2 separate regions of the Homo sapiens genome follow, and region 2 is linked to region 1. Evidence: fine-mapped expression QTL. Tissue or cell type: blood mononuclear cells. Region 1 holds a variant in brackets; the other region holds the start of a gene. All regions are shown on one strand. Distances are from middle to middle.

Region 1 (8,093 bases):
GGAACGTGCGGCATGTACTGGTGTGTGCCTTGAGGCATTGGAGCCGGCATTGGAGCCGGCGGCGTGGACCCTGGGCCACCCCAGGACAGGCAGGGCTCACTCTGTTTCTGGCTTGCAGACGGGTGGAACCAGCAGCTGTGTGGAGGCCTGAACTGTGTGCCAGCTGGGCTGTGCAGACACAGAAGTTTGAGACTGCCTTTCCCCAAAGGAAGCTAGAGGCTCCTTACACCCCACGGCTCCCCGGGCCTGTCTGTGAAACCTGGCTCACCTGGCCCCCTTCACAGGGTTGGCTGTTGGTGGTCACTGGGCACTTTGTAACCAAGCAGCATCCTACGTTTTCCCATTCTTAACAAACCAGGACCAAGGGGTCATCAGACTCCGATTTCTGCCACCCGTGACTGCTGTACAGTAGGTCCCAGAACAAGTCAAGGGCTGAAAGTTCGGCTAAAAGTTTGTCTCTGACTCAGAATCCCGTGTTCACCAAAGACCAGTTGGGGCTCCGTGGGTGCTGATCGCCCTGCTTATCTGGGTGTGTGTTAAAGCCCAGCTCTGCAGTACTTAATTATATTCCAGGTGCCCCTAATAACAGCCTGTGAGTGCGAGATGAGGTGTCTCACCTTATGCCGCTCAGTTGAAGAAATTGGGGGCTGTCACATTTTGACACCCCAGACCTATCAAGCACACAGAGAACATGACACTGCTCACCCCACCCCTGGCCACCCAGGGGTGGCCGCTGTCACGTGCGCAGTGCACCTGAGGTCTGAGCTGGCAGCTGGGCCCCTCAGATGTCTGTGTGTGTGTCTGTTGCATTTTTTCCTCAAAGGAGAAACCTGCAGGTTGAGGCCCGTCCCGCTCAGACCTGCCTGTGTCTCTGTGTCCAGTGGACTTTAATCCAGGGGCCTAGGGTACAGCCAAGCCTTCACTGCTGCCTTAGCCCTTTTCCTCCTCCGTGATTGTTTCCAGTGTTTTGCAACTGATCTGATCTGGGGAAACGTCGTGTTTAATTTGGAGCATGCTGCCAACGTCCCCAGTAGGATTTCGGAGGCAGCCGCAGGTTTCGGCGCTGCCCGGGGCAGAGCTTAGAGGAGAAGCTCAGAGCGGCCTCCATGTTTCTCTTTTCCAAGCCCCTGAGGTCTTTAAGTGCCGGGAGGGTTGGAAGGGGAAGCATTGCCCCGGGGTGGGGGTGGGGTAGGTGTCAGGAGCTCAACAGGCTCTGGAGGCATCTCAGCAGGACCTGAGCTCTCCAACTCTAATGGCTTTTTAATGTGTGAGCTGAAGTGTCAGGGGGCGGTCTCTTCTGGTTCTTTTTCGAAGCTGTCCCTGGAAAGCGGATGAAAGAATGTGGTGGCCAGGGCTGCAGCGGGTTTCCCTCTCTCCCTTCTCTCCCCTCCTCTCCCTATCTCTCCCCCCTCTTCTTCCTCTCTTTCTGTTCTCACTCTTCCCTTGTCTTTCTCTCTGTCTCTCCCTTCTTTTGCCCTCTCACCTCTTCTTCCTCTCTCTCTGTCTGTCCTCTCCACACCTTCTTCCTGTCTGTCTGCCTGCCTGTCTCTCTCTTTCTCTATCTCTCGCCTTTTGCAGGGCTGGATTTGGCAAGCACTTTTCCTGAGCACTGCAGCTTGGTGCGTTTCTGCTCATTTCCTGTTAAGCAGTACCCAGGGCTCCCTGAACTCAGGCTCTGGGAGGACGGCCCTGTCTTCCTTTTCCTCTCCACTCCTAGAAAAACCTGCTGACCAGGCCCTGAGAGCAGGGTCACGGGGAGACCTCCTCACCACAGCAGGAAGATAGACGGACAGTTTCCTCCATTGGACCTGACTCAGCAGCGGCCCACTGACCGCCTGGGAGGGGGCTCCCGCCTAGCGGGCCGCAGTTCCACACCTGGGTAAGGGGACGAAGCACCCAGCAGGGGTCATGCCGCGTGTGACACAGTCTGTAGGGGCGGTGGTCATGGCAGATACTCAGAATCCAGATGGCATCAGGCCTGCGAGGGCATGGGGTGAGTGGGCCCACTCCCCTCCCTGGGCCGGGAACATGCGTCTCCTCTGCCCTGGCCCCCAAGTGGACAGCTCCCCACATGGTTTCATGCCAATGGGAGTGATTATTCCATTGCCGTTGCCACTGGAATATGAGCCCATTGCCGCCGGAGCCAGGCATTTGTGCTCATTGCTGCATCCCCAGTGTTTGGTTTACTGGCTGGCCTGCCCCAGGGAGCCGGTAAATATCACATGGAAGGACGGATGGGCCACCGTGGCCCCCACCCTACAGCGGATGGCCTCGTGTCGAGTTTGTGTGAGCACGCCCTAGAGGAAGAGAAGCAGGTCTCCACCTGGCCCAGGGTACAGTTCAAGCTCTCAGCCGAATTTCGGGAGCTTCTGGAGCCCCTGCCTTGGTCCCAGGTTTAAATGCTACTCTTCCCCTGCATGGGAACTCACACAGTCAGTCCCTCCCGCCCACCCTGTGTGGGGCCCTGTACTCTCCTGCCTCCTGTCCATGTCACCGGCCTCTCCTACCTCCCAACCTCATTTTCTCTCCACTTCCTGTCTGCCCTATAACGAACGCGTTTCTATCTCCCCTTATCCTTGGCATCTTCCGGGGATGCATGTGGGAACTGAGTTCTCAGCCCTTGGAGCTTCTGGCCTCGGGGTCCCCCACCCAGATGCCACACGCTGGTGTTCGTGTGAGGTGCTCTCCTCCCATCGGACGGCAGCTCCTGAGGCTGGGCTGTGCTCGGGCATGTGTGATGGGCCATGTTCTGCTGGGCACTGGCCTGCTGATGAGGTTGCCAGAGACGCCCCCTACAGAGGCTGAGCTAGAGGGCTCCTTCTCAGAGTGAGGGGCTGTCCTCCACAGGGCCCCTGTGGTGTCCCTGGTGGTGGCTCAACAGCAGCCCCTGGTCCGCTGGCCAGGCATCTGACCAGGCCGTGTCACAGCACCAGGGAGGCAGGTGGCTGACAAGGCCTCGGAGAACTCGGTTGGGAACAGGTCCGACTGCTCTGAAAAAATCAACAGCTCAGAGAGTGTCTCCTGTGGTTTAGGGTGTGTGTCCAGCTCCAGGGCTGCAGCTGACAGTCACCTGAACTTGGCCAGGTCCGAGGGCCTGACTGTGTCACAGGCAGTCTCTGACCCAGAGCCTGCCTGAGCAGGGTCCCTAAGAAGCCAAGCCCAGACGCCTGCTTCCCCCCTTGATCGAGGCCAGGCTGAAATGCACCTGCTGCTGCCCGGCTGGGCCGGTCTGCTCAGAGTTGGTGGTTCCCTGGCTTGAATGCTTCCCCAAACTAAACCACTC[C/T]CAGCCTCCAGAAACTGGCTCCCCAGCCCTGTTTGCCAAGATTCTTAGGACTTTTGCCATGGCTGGGCCTGGCCACCCATCCTGCAGCTCTCTCCCTGGCCTCTGTGCCCAGTTGCTGCAGTGACTTCTCTCTGATTGCCACAATAGGCCCTGCGGCTCCTCCCACTTCTCCCTGTGGATGGCCCCTTCTGTCTCTGAGCCTGCTGTCTCCTGTGCTTCCGCTGCCCCTCTCTGTACCTGTCTTCTAAGCCTGCGTCCCCTGTCCCAGCGTTCAAATGTGACACTCCCACGACTCGCAGACCACAGCAGGCAGCTGGCCAGCGGTGATGCCCTGAAATGACAGCCAGGGTTCATCGCCTGTCCTTCAGCTTGAACCCATTAGCTGATTCGGCCTCTTTCCTCTTAAATTACTTTTATTTTATCACTTTTAAAATGTATTTTAAAGGGGATCGTGGTATTTTTCCTTGCTCAATAACAGTAACTGGAATAGGCCGGACACGATGGCTCACACCTGTAATCCCAGCACTTTGGGAGGCCGAGGCAGGTGGATCACAAGGTCAGGAGTTTGAGACTAGACTGGCCAACATGGTGAAACCCCATCTCTACTAAAAATACAAAAATTAGCTGGGCGTGGGTGGCGCATGGCTGTAATCCCAGCTACTCAGGAGGCTGAGGCGGGAGAATCGCTTGAACTCAGGAGGCAGAGGTTGCAGTGAGCTGAGATCGCGCCAGTGCACTCCAGCCTGGCGACAGAGCGAGACTCTGTCTCAAAAAAACAAAAACAAAAACAAACAAAATTCGTCGGGCGTAGTAATGCATATCTGTAATCCCCGCTACTCGGGAGGCTGAGGCAGGCGAATCGCTGGAACCTGCGAGGTGAAGGTTGCCTTGAGCCAAGATAGCACCACTGCACTCTGCCTCAAAAACAAAACAACACAAAAAACCCCGCACAGTAAGTGGAATAACAAATACAACAGCAGCAAAACAATAGAGTGAAATTTTGCTGGATACCCCACCCCTGAGCCTGAGGTGTGCTCTCTTGTGAAAGAGCTGTTCGGGCTGGACGTGGTGATTCTTGCCTGTAATCCCAGCACTTAGGGAGGCTGAGGCAGGATTGCTTTAGCCCAGTTGTTCAAGCCCATTTGGGCAACACAATGAAACCCCGTCTGTACAAAAAATTAAATTAGCCAGTCATAGCGGTGCACACCTGTAGCCCAGCTACTTGGTAGGCTGAGGTGGGAGGATCACTTAAGTCCAGGAGTTTGAGGCTGCGGTGAGCTATCATCATGCCGCTGCCCTCCAGCCTGGGCAACAGAGCAAGACCCTGCCTAAAAAAAACAAAAACAAAGCCTGTACTATAGTAGTGCCCACCTGGAAGTTCCTTCTTGCCAGAATAAGAAATACAGAAGAGGGGCCAGGCGCGGTGGCTCATGCCTGTAATCCCAGCACTTTGGGAGGGCGAGGCGGGCAGATCACGAGGTCAGGAGATCGAGACCATCCTGGCTAACACGGTGAAACCGTGTCTCTGCTAAAAATACAAAGAATTAACTGGATGTGGTGGCGGGCACCTGTAGTCCCAGCTACTCGGGAGGCTGAGCCAGGAGTATGGCGTGAACCCGGGAGGCAGAGCTTGCAGTGAGCCAAGATTGCACCACTGCACTCCAGCCTGGGCGACAGAGCAAGACTCCATCTCAAAAGAAAAAGAAAAAGAAATACAGAAGGGGAATTGCAGCGGAGTTGTGTTCTGACCACGTGATTCACGTGCCTTATGCTTGTGTTAGCTGCCACGCTGTGGGAAATGCCTCACGGAAGGCACGTTGCCTTTTCCCTTGGGGCCCACCGCCATGCCCTCTGCAGTCTCGCCTCTTAGGATCGGGGGATCCTGCACACTGGGATTTGGGCTCAGGAAAGAGGGCTGATGGGTTGGTAACAGCCAGGTCCTGAGTGCCTGGGGAAAGGCATGGAAGCTGGAGACCCAGCAGTCAGCATTCTTAAGGAGTTCCCAAACATTGTTGGGCACGGTGGCTCGTGCCTGTAATCCCAGCTCTGAGGGAGGCAGAGGCAGGAGGAGCGCTTGAGCCCGGGAGTTTGAGATCTGCCTGGGCAGTATAGCAAGACCCTGTTCTCCAAAAAAAAAAAAAAAAAAGTGAAAAAGAAATAAAAAAAAAAAAGAGTTCCCAAACATCACCCAAGCAGTAATGCAAATATCTTCCTCCAGGACACCCCCATCCAGCCCTGCGTGCTGGAAGCAGAACTGCTGACTGATTATTTTTCTGCTGTCATTTCGGGACTTTGCCCCAGCACTAAGCAGAGACCCTTATTCTCAGGAAGCCCCCTGCGGAAGGAAGCTCTGGGAACTTTCTGCCCGCCCTCGCCGCAATCCCTTGCCACCCGCCTCTGTGGGATGAGGCCCCACAGCTGACTCAGGCAGGCATCCATCAGCCTAACAGCCTCACTCATCAGAGTCCCGATTGTTTGAAACAGATGGGCAGCCCTGGCCCTTCAAGGCCAGCCTTTGTGGCTCAGAAGAGGGCAGCCCAGGGACCTGGTTGGAATTTCCCCATCTCCCAACCTTCACCCACCCTGGCATAAGATCATCTTCATCCTCTCCTGAGGCCTCTGATGGTTTTCTCTAAGGTTGAGAATCCCTGCTATTATTTTAGGAAGGAAGGACAACCCCCAGAACTGCAGAGTATCTTGCTTCTTGCTGACTCTGGTCAAGTCAGCGTTCCACCCACGAGGAGCCTTGGAGCTGTCGGACCCCTGGCTGAGCGTAGTGTGGGTGTCTGGGAGGTATGTGCTGCCCACTGCAGAGGCTGGCTCGGAGGCCGCTGGAATGCTGCGCTGTGCCCTAGCTTTTACATTTTTATTTCATACTTGCAGAATCCTGTGTATTTTTCCAGTGTTCTCCCACTCCCAGCCTTCCCACAGCAGCCTCCCCGGCTAGCCCCAGAGCACTCTGTGCCTGTCAGAAGAAGGCACCAGTGGGCCCCTCTGTTGAGTGGGGTCCCTGTGCCACCTCTAGACTGGCTGAGGGTTCCATAGTGGGCAGCTGCACAGCCAGGGAGGGTCTTTGGGGCCCGGAAGGAAAGAGTGCTGCTGGGAGGGAGGGCAGGAGAAAGACCTTTGGTCTGCCTGCTGCAATCACGTTTCTGGAGCCCAGGAGTCCACTCGGCTGTCAGAGGAGCCGGTAGGGGGTCGCCCTCCTTCCAGGAGAGGTTGCCTCTTACTGCATTCAGAACACATTCCCTGGGCCACACGCTGGTCGGCACCAGTATGTGGCACAGGGCACCTCCCTTGTTCAGGCACCTCATGAAGGTTGTATCATAAAGGGTTTCAGATCCAGAAAGGCAGCTAAGAATGACCAGCAGATGAGCAGGTGCCCCCACCCCATCCCAAGGAAGCCAGAGCAGGGCCGGCGTGCCTTCACTGCGCACGTTCACTGCGCCAAAACACGCAGGGTTGTGTGGCGGTCCACACTGCCTGTCAACAGGATCACGTGCTTTCTTGCTTGGTTTCTCGTACCCTAGTTTTTTTTTTTTTTTTTGAGATGGAGTCTCTCGTCACCCAGGCTGGAGTGCAATGGCGCAATCTCAGCTCACTGCAACCTCCCGCTCCCAGGCTCAAGCAATTCTCCTGCCTCAGCCTCCCGAGTAGCTGGGATTACAGACACCAACCACCACACCCGGATAATTTTCATATTTTTAGTAGGGACAAGGTTTCACCATGTTGGCCAGGCTAGTCTCGAACTCCTGAGCTCCAGCAATCTGCCTGCTTTGGCCTCCCAGAGTGCTGGGATTACAGGCGTAAGCCACCGCACCTGCTCACCCTACTTTTAGGCTGAGCACTGCTTGTGAGTACCGTTCACACTGACACACGAGGCTCCACTCGCATCCGCAGCTGCGTGGCTTTCCCTCGTGGTTATTCCACAGTGTGTCTATCCGTTCTCCAGCCAGTGGACATTTAGAGTCTCCAAGTTTCTGCATTTTCACACAGCCTGGCAGTGAGCGGTCCCCTGTGGCATGTATCTGAGAGCTTCTCCAGTGCGGTACCTTGCTTAATATGATCATCTGCTGTAGTGCTTGATGACTATGCCCATGAATAGCCACTGCACTCCAGCCTAGGCAATATAGCGAGACCCTGCCTTCAAAAAAAGAAAAATAGCCACATAGGTTTTCAGCAGTCCTAGCCTGGAAAAAAACAACCTGTTCAATTTGCATGACCGAAAGTCCTGGACCGGTGGCTAGCAATATCGTGTGTTGCGCACTCGTAAAGTGTGTTATTTCAACCCTCCTCCACCGTGCTGTATGTGCCTGGGGGCCTTGGCCAGGAAGCCAAGTGGGCGGGGAGGAGGCTCCCAGCTCAGGGTTAGCTCTGTGTGGTCCGGAGCGGGATGAACTGGGGGGCTCCTGCGCCATCAGCTCTGAGGACTCTGCTTCTGCTGGGCATCCTCCTCACGGATGTAACATCCCCTCCAGCCTGTAAATTCCTCTGGAGCCTGCGTTTTCAGTTTTGTTGTGTACAGTGAGGCCGCGCTCACAGAAAGCACCTAGCACCCAGCCTTGTCGCAGAGGGCAGCTTGGGCCAGGACTCACGTGCTCCCTGTGCAAATTCACCTACTTGATAAGATTGATTTGTAGCCCCAAATCATTCCTTTTGCAGTCTTTTGCAGACAAGTGCAGAGCAGCAAAAAATCTGTCACCCATCGCATATGTTCCTAGCCGAGGTCAAACAAAGCCACACTGCCTTCTCCTAGCTCTCAACGCTGTGTTCTGGCGTGGATCACTCTGCCTTCTCCCGGCTCTCGCAT
Region 2 (8,080 bases), 70 kb before region 1:
AGACCAGCCTGACCAACATGGAGAAACCCTGTGTCTACTAAAAATACAAAAAAGTAGCCAGGCATGGTGGCGGGTGCCTGTAATCTCAACTACTCGGGAGGCTGAGGCAGGAGAATCCGAGAGATGGAGGTTGTGGTGAGCCGAGATCGCACCATTGCACTACAGCCTGGGCAACAAGAGCGAAATTCCTTCTCAAAAAAAAAAAAAAAAAAAAAATTAGCTGAGTGTGGTGGCACATGCCTGCAGTCCCAGCTTCTTGGGAAGCTGAGTGGGGAGGACTGCTTGAGCTCAGAAGTTCTAGGCTGCAGTGAGCCATGATTGTGCCACTGCACTCCAGCGTGGGGAAGAGAGTAAGACCCTGTCTAAAAAAAAAAAGAAAGCTGGGCATGGTGGCTCATGCCTGTAATCCCAGCACTTTGGGAGGCCGAGGCGGGCGGATCACGGGGTCAGGAGATCGAGACCATCTTGGCTAACACGGTGAAACCCCGTCTCTACTAAAAATACAAAAAATTAGCCGGGTGTGGTGGCGGGCGCCTGTAGTCCCAGCTAGTCGGGAGGCTGAGGCAGGAGAATGGTGTGAACCTGGGAGGTGGAGCTTGCAGTGAGCCAAGATTGTGCCACTGCACTGCAGCCTGGGCAACAGAGCGAGACTCCATCTCAAAAAAAAAAAAAAGAAAAGAAAAGAAAAGAAAAATAAATGTTGTCCTCCCAAAGTGCTGGAATTACTGGTGTGAGCCACCGACCGCTCCTGGCAGAAATGTTAAATTATTTAATCTCATAACCTCATCCGACATGAGGAAGATAGTCCAGGAGAGCGTCATGGTGGAAGAGGATTGAGTTAGGCAGAGGAAGAGAAGTCCCTTCTGGTAAAGGAGAATGCCTAGGCAAAGGCCCAGAGGTGAGCTGGAAATACTTCCAGGTAACTGAGGCAGAGGTGGAAAGGTGGGTGATAACAAGAAACGGGGTTTCTGAAACCCTCAGAATACTTAGAACCTGAAATAGAAATTTATTAGGGCCTATTAATGTTAGGATCTCCTTAGACCAGGCTGAGGAACCCCATAGGATTTTATTCTTGGAGAAGTGGGATGGGTCTCTGCCACTTTCCAGCTGTGTGACTTTGGCCCAGTGTTGTACCTTTATTTGAGTTATAGGGTATACAATTCCTTATTCACAACAATGAGCTGTAATTTTCTTTTCTTTTCTTTTTGAGACGGAGTCTTGCTCTGTTGCCAAGCTGGATTGCAGTGGCGCAGTCTCGGCTCACTGCAACCTCTGCTTCCCAAGTTCAGGTGATTCTCCTGCCTTAGCCTCCTGAGTAGCTGGGATTACAGGCATGAGCCACCGTGCCCGGCATACTGAGAACTTTCTAATCACATGATCACCCCTACAATCTATAGAGAGTGTTATTCTTATCCCCATTTCATAGATAGGAGACTGGAGATCAGAAAGATTGAAGTTTGGGTTGCACTGTATTCTTCTTTTATTTATTTATTTTTTTACTTTATTTATTTATTTTTGAGACAGAGTCTCGCTCTGTCGCCCAGGCTGGAGTGCAGTGGTGCAATCTCAGCTCACTGCAACCTCTGTCTCCTGCGTTCAAGTGATTCTGCTGCCTCAGCTTCTCAAGTAGCTGGGATTACTGGCACACACCACCACACCCGGCTGATTTTTGTATTTTTAATAGAGACGGGGTTTTGCTATGTTGGCCAGGTCGGTCTTGAACTTCTGACCTTAAGTGATCCACCCGCCTTGACCTCCCAAAGTGCTGGGATTACAGGTGTGAGCCACCGCACCTGGCCCAATTCTTTTCCTTTTTTTTTTTTTTTTGAAACGGAGTCTTGCTCTGTTGCCCAGGCTGGAGCACAGTGGCATGATCTCGGCTCACTGTAAGCTCTGCCTCCTGGGTTCACGCCATTCTCCTGCCTCAGCCTCCCAAGTAGCTGGGACTACAGGCGCCCGCCACCAAGGCTGGCTAATTTTTTTAAAAATTATTTTCAGTAAAGACAGGGTTTCACCGTATTAGCCGGGATGGTCTCAATCTCCTGACCTCGTGATCCACCCGCCTCGGCCTTCCAAAGGGCTGGGATTACAGGCATGAGCCACCGTGCCTGGCCTTTTTTTCTTTTTTTAATAAGACAGGGTCTGGCTCTGTTGCCCAGGCTGGAGTGCAGTGGCGTGATCCTAGCTTACTGCAGCCTCCAATTCCTGGGCTAAAGCAATCCTCCCACCTTGGCCTCCCAAAATGTTGGGACTGCAGGCCTGAGCCACCCGTCCAACCCATGATATTTCAATTTCAGTCTTGGGGTGGGCTGTTTCCTCACCTGGAGGCTTCTCCTCCATCAGTCTCTGTGTATCTCATTCCAACTCCTTCTTTTTTGAGGCAGAGTCTCCCTCTGTTGCCCAGGCTGAAGTGCAATGGCGAGATCTCGGCTCACTGCAACCTCCACCTGCCGGGTTCAAGCGATTCTCCTGCCTCAGCCTCCCGAGTAGCTGGGATTACCGGTGCCCATAGAGACAGGCTTTCACCATGTTGGCCAGGCTGGTCTCAAACTCCTGACCTCAAGTGATCCGCCGGCCTCGGCCTCCCAAAGTGCTGGGATTAGAGGCATGAGCCACCACGTCTGACCCCCAACTCCCATTTTTTGAGGCTTGTTTTAACTGTCACTTTGTGTATCTTCTTTGTGGATTGCACAGACCAAAGTACGCCACTATTAACTGGTGTCCACCAAAGTGGATCCCCAATCCCCAGGTCCCAATTGGGTGCATTGGGTGCATCCTCTTTTTTTTTTTTTTTTTTTTTTTTTGAGACGGAGTCTCGCTCTGTCGCCCAGGCTGGAGTGCAGTGGTGAGATCTCGGCTCACTGCAAGCTCCGCCTCGCGGGTTCACGCCATTCTCCTGCCTCAGCCTCCCGAGTAGCTGTGAGTACAGACGCCTGCCACCATGCCCGGCTAATTTTTTGTATTTTTAGTAGAGACGGGGTATCACCGTGTTAGCCAGGATGGTCTCGATCTCCTGACCTTGTGATCCGCCCGCTTCGGCCTCCCAAAGTGCTGGGATTACAGGCATGAGCCACCGCGCCCGGCCCAGGTGCATCCTCTTAAACAGCTCCTACCTAGGGTACGTGGTGATGGTGGCGGGGGGGTGCTTCAGGCACCAAAACAGGCCAGATCGTGGGGGCCTCCAATACCCAACATTGAATTGGGATTTTATCACGTAAGCTCTGGGGAGACAGAGAAGGTTGGAATTTTTTTTGTTTTGCTTGAGACAGGGTCTCTCTCTGTCGCCCAGGCTGGAATGCAGTGGCTTGATCACAGCTCACTGCAGCCTCGACCTCTTGGGTTCAAGCGATCCTCCCGCCTCTGCCTCCCAAGTAGCTGAGAGGCGCGCGCCACCACCCTCGGCTAATTTATTTTATTTTATTTTTTTTTTTTTTATAGAGACGAGGTTTTGCCATGTTGCCAGGCTGGTCTCCAACTTCTGGGATCAAGCAATCCTTCCGCTTGAGCCTCCAAAGTGCTGTGATTGCAGGCGTGAGCCACCGCGCCTAGTTTAGGTTGAGCAGCGAAAGGGATAGGGCCCAGTGCTTTCTCTGCGAGGTTCAGTTGGCCTGTCCCTGTCCTATCACCGTTTGTCACCGTTTGGGGAGCGCCACGGAATGCCCTGTCTCCAATCGAGAGGTGCACTCGTCGCCCTGGCAACGGAGTCCGGAAGAACCACAGAGACGCGGCTCCAGCGTACAGAGCGGCCGCCCTGGGCCAGCAAGGCACCGAGCGCTAGAGAGGCACGTCTAGTCGATTGTCACGTGGCAGGCCAGGGGAAGGCGGGACTTCCGGCGGCGAGGTAAATTTTTTTTTTTTTTTTTTTTTTTTTTTTAATTTTCTTCCGGTGGCTGGTCTCCGGCGGCCCCGTCCCCGACTGGGCCCCGTGCCCCCCCGCCCCCGCGGCCCCCCGCCGCCGGGCCAGCCGCCACCATGAAGAAATTCTTTCAGGAGTTCAAGGCCGACATCAAGTTCAAGAGCGCGGGACCCGGTCAGAAGCTCAAAGAGTCCGTGGGGTGCGTGAGGAACGCAGGGGCTTGAGGCCCTGCGGGGCGGGGACGGCCGGGGAGAGAGATCTGGGGCCTTGGGCGGCTCGGGAGATCGGAGAGGATGAGGGGCTGGGAGCGGCACGCGAGGGTCAGGGGAGGGGGAGAGGCGCCGGGGGCGGACGAAGTCGGGCCGAGGGTGGGCGTCAGGGGGAGGGGAGAGAGATCTGGGGGCGGGGCAGGAGGGGGCGGGTATGACCCGGGGGCGCGGCGGGGGAGGCGAGGGGAGGGGAACTAGCGCAGGGGGCGGGGCGGGAGGGGAGGTCTCGGGGGCGGGGCCGCAGGAGGGTCCGATGCAGTGGCGGGGGATTAGGGCGACGGGGCTGTAGGCAGTTGGGGGTCAGTGGAACGACCTTTGGGGAAAAACGGGATCATGAGTCCTGAGCCGGGTGGTGAGGGAGAGCTCTGTCTGGGGACCCGGCTGGCCGAAGAGGCCGGGATGATTTGGGGCAATCTAGGTGACCATGGATGGGAGCTGAGCTTGGAGGAGGACGCACAGCTGTGGGGTGGGGTGGTGAAGAGTTGTTTTGAGGTATCCATGGGAAGAGGGGTTCTGGATTTGGTATCTGGAGCACGTGGGAGGCTGATGGGAGACTAGAAAGAGTCTGGAAGGCCAGGGAGGCCGGGGTGGGCAGCGTCGTCAGTGACCTGGGATGTCCTGGCGAATTGAGAGGGAGGGGCTGAGGAAGGTGTGTGAGGAGAGTGGAGGTGAGGGATTCTGACAGATGGACTCTTACCCGGGAGGGGCCTGAGAGGAGAAGACGGGTGAGACAGACGCGTCTTAGCAGGCTGGGAGAAAGAGCTTCTCTGCGAGGCTTCTCTGCCACGTCACTGTGCCAAGTGGATTATGGAAGTGGGAGAGGAGGGGAAAGGAGATAGATGCCGGGCAGGCTTCCGGATTGTCTAGGGAGGACTTGGAGAGAAGGGCCTGAGCAGGGCTGAGCCAGCTGGGAGGGCCGGGGAAGAAGTGGAGCTAGGGAAGGTGCAAGGCTGAGGGCTGTTGGGTTGAGAAAAGGGAAACTGGAGAGCTGGGGCCGCTGCAGGGAGCTGGCTGGCCAGAGGGTGGTGGGGACTGATGGAGAGGGACTGAGGAAGTCAGCCAGGCAGCCAGGACACGGGTCTGTAAGCAATAGTGGAAGGGATTGTGAGGGAGTGGGGGCTGGGAGAGGCAGGGAGGTGGCAGGAAGTGGGGGTCAGGAATCACGGGGCAGTGGGGTGGTGATGGAGGTAGGGGCATAGTGAGGACGTCAGGGTTCCTGGGGGAGAGCAGGAGAGCAAAGGCTGAGTGAGGGAGGGAGAGGGGTCAGGGAGAGAAGGGGGCAAATCGGGGGAGCCCTTCATTGATTCAACCAATAGTGGGTGGGGGGTGCTGGGGCCACTGGGACTGGGCATGATAGGAAGGATGCAGGGTATCGGGGTGATGGCTGGATCAGCCCAGAGCCTGGGCGGAGAGGGGAAGGTTGGAGGGGAAGGTTGGGAAAGGAAGCGGTGCGGAGGTCCCTTGTGGAGCGAGACTGCATATCCAGGGTGTGTGGGGTGGGTGGGCACCAAGTCCTGTTTTAGGCTGCAGTGGTGGACAGGAGAAGGCCTCTGCTGTCCCAGGGCTCACCTTCTAGAGGGAGCCGATGGACAAATAAACCAACAGACCTTGGATGAGCGCTCAGGCGATGAGTGCTTGGATGAGTGCCCAGGGCCTCCAAGGAGGGTGAGCAGGGGCCGTCAGGTGGTTTGGGAAGGCCTCTCCCAGGACACAGTGAGACTCAGCTGTGGGGAAATCTGCCCCTCCTTCTCTCCCTGCGGCAGCTCTAGCCCTTTCCAGACCCCCATCCTCCTCCCACTCCCCCGGAGAACATTCTGGGCAGAAGGTGCAGACAGTGCAGGGGCCTGCAGTGGGGAGCAGCTGGGGTGTGGGAAGAACTGCGGGGAGCCCAGGGGAGACAGGCCACGGGAGGGCAGTGGGCCAGGCTGGGAAGGGCTCTCTGGCCAAGGGAAGCTTTAGGATTTTGCAGTGGGAGGGCGTTGTGCAGTGGAGTGATGCTGACGCTCCCTGGCTGAGGTTCCAGAAGGGTCCCTGTGGCTGCCCAGGGGGGCAGGGTCCATGGCTGGTTGGGGTGAGGTGCCCTGGGAAATGGCATTTTGTTGGAAAGACCCAGATATCGGATGAGGCCGGGGTGGGTCTTCATGAGTCATCTCCTCTTCCACCCAAGATGCTCAGCTGTGGGAGGACTAGATAGGCAGGGGTGGGACGAGGAGGGAGGGCTGCCCGGGTATGTAAGCAGAGCCAGAGGAGTATAGGGCTTGAACTGAGAGCCTGGCCTCCCAGAAGGTTTTAATAGACCTACGGCACAGAAATTGACACAGCCCGTAAGTTCATGGGAGGGGCCTGAGAGGAGACGGGTGAGACAGACGCGTCCGAGCAGGTTGGGAGAAAGGGCTTCTCTGCGAGGCTTCTCTGCCAGGTCACTGTGCCACGTGGGTTACGGAACTCTCCTTGGTGTAGGGCTCAACAGGGTGGAGCCACGAGTCCATGAGCTCTTCGTACTTGCACAGCCCTAGGCCTGGCATGGAGTGGCCAGGGCGAGGCTGGTTCTGCTGTCCGCTCTCCCCAGGGTCCCGCCACGAGGGTGGCGTGGCATGGGGCACATCGCCCGGACTTCCTGTCCCTCTTGGGTTTAGGAATGGGATGGTGAGGCCTCCCTGGCAGCTTGTTAGGAGGAGTAAACCAAGCGAGCCGACCAGCTCCCAGCAGGGTCCTGGCACACAGTAGGTGCTCAGCAAACGAAGCTGTGACCTGAGGGTGGAGAGTCTTATGGCAGGGAGGGAGGGAGGATGTGACACCCCTTGAGTCTCCTCAATTCCTGAGGATGCGGGCTGGGTGCTGTGGCTCATGCCTATAATCCCAGCAGTTTGGGAGGCCACGGTGGGAGGATCATTTGAGGCAAAAGTTCGAGACCAGCCTGAGCTACATAGCGAGACCCTGTCTCGATAGAAAAATTAGCCAGGCATGATGATGCTTGCCTCTAAGTCCCAGCGACTTGGGAGGCTGAGGCGGGAGGATTCCTTGAGCCTGGGAGCTCAGGATTGCAGTAAGCCATGATCGTGCCACTATACTCCAGCCTTGGTGAGAGAGCAAGACCCTGTCTCAAAAAGAAAAAAAGCACTGAGGATGTCAAGGTGCCTTCACCTCAGGAGGGGTGCTGTCACCCCATTTTACAGATGAGGACGCTGAGGGCCAGTGGGGGCAGGACTTGCCCGATGGTGCAGAGCTGAGTGGAACCAGCATCTCCTTCCTCCAGGGGCTCTTCCGCCTGCAGTAGAACCATCTGGTGGCTGCAGGTGGCCCCTGGGAACCAGGTGTCCTGGCCCACATAGGCAGGGACACGTCTGGCTGATGGTGCTGGGGAGGGGCAGAAGCTCCTCTGTGTGACTGCACGTCAGCTTTGCCGGCCACCTCGGGAGGATACACTCACTCTCCCTCGGTCTGTTCCCAGGGAAAAGGCCCACAAAGAGAAGCCCAACCAGCCAGCCCCCAGGCCGCCCCGCCAGGGACCCACCAATGAGGCACAGATGGCAGCCGCTGCCGCCCTAGCCCGGCTGGAGCAGAAGCAGTCCCGGGCCTGGGGCCCCACATCGCAGGACACCATCCGAAACCAGGGTGAGATATGGCCCTCCTCGGGCCCAGGTTGGGGCTGTTTGAGGTTCTCGGCCCTGGTGCCTGGCCCTGGATGCAGAAGTCACATGAGCAACCGTGGGGGTGTGAGGGTCACCCTTGGGAGCGGCTCATCAAGGGCAGGTGCTGGGGGAAGGGCAGCTTCCTGGGGAGGGGGTGGGAGCAGAGACTTGGAGCAGAAACGGGCTGCCCAGGCAGTGGGGTGCTTGCTCAGGCTGAGGGGTGGCTGCACAGCAAGTCCTGCAGGGGACCTCCAGCCTGACCTCCAGCAGAAGCAGGCTGGGGCGGTGTGCGTGGCCCCCAGGCCCACCCCGGGAATGAGGGG

The links. PIP is the estimated chance that this variant, and not a neighbour inherited with it, causes the effect.
Region 2: UBXN6 starts here. The variant in region 1 is fine-mapped to the expression of UBXN6 in blood mononuclear cells (TOPMed, PIP above 0.99). The same link has a PIP of 0.9 or more in lung.

Annotation. Positions count from the first base shown.
Region 1 is chr19:4,383,838-4,391,930 of GRCh38, reverse strand. All of the region lies in intron 1 of SH3GL1 (SH3 domain containing GRB2 like 1, endophilin A2), which reads left to right. Among named protein-coding and RNA genes, the nearest start is that of SH3GL1, 13 kb to the left of the region's middle. RefSeq lists enhancers at 704-1,312, 1,313-1,919, 1,920-2,527, 4,946-5,446. The variant C/T (reference allele first, on the strand shown) is at 3,284.
Region 2 is chr19:4,453,590-4,461,669 of GRCh38, reverse strand. UBXN6 (UBX domain protein 6) reads left to right here and starts at 3,876. Exons shown (of 11, transcript NM_025241.3): 1 at 3,876-4,055; 2 at 7,577-7,740. The coding sequence starts at 3,973. RefSeq lists enhancers at 3,615-3,814, 7,641-8,080 and silencers at 3,925-3,974, 4,005-4,074.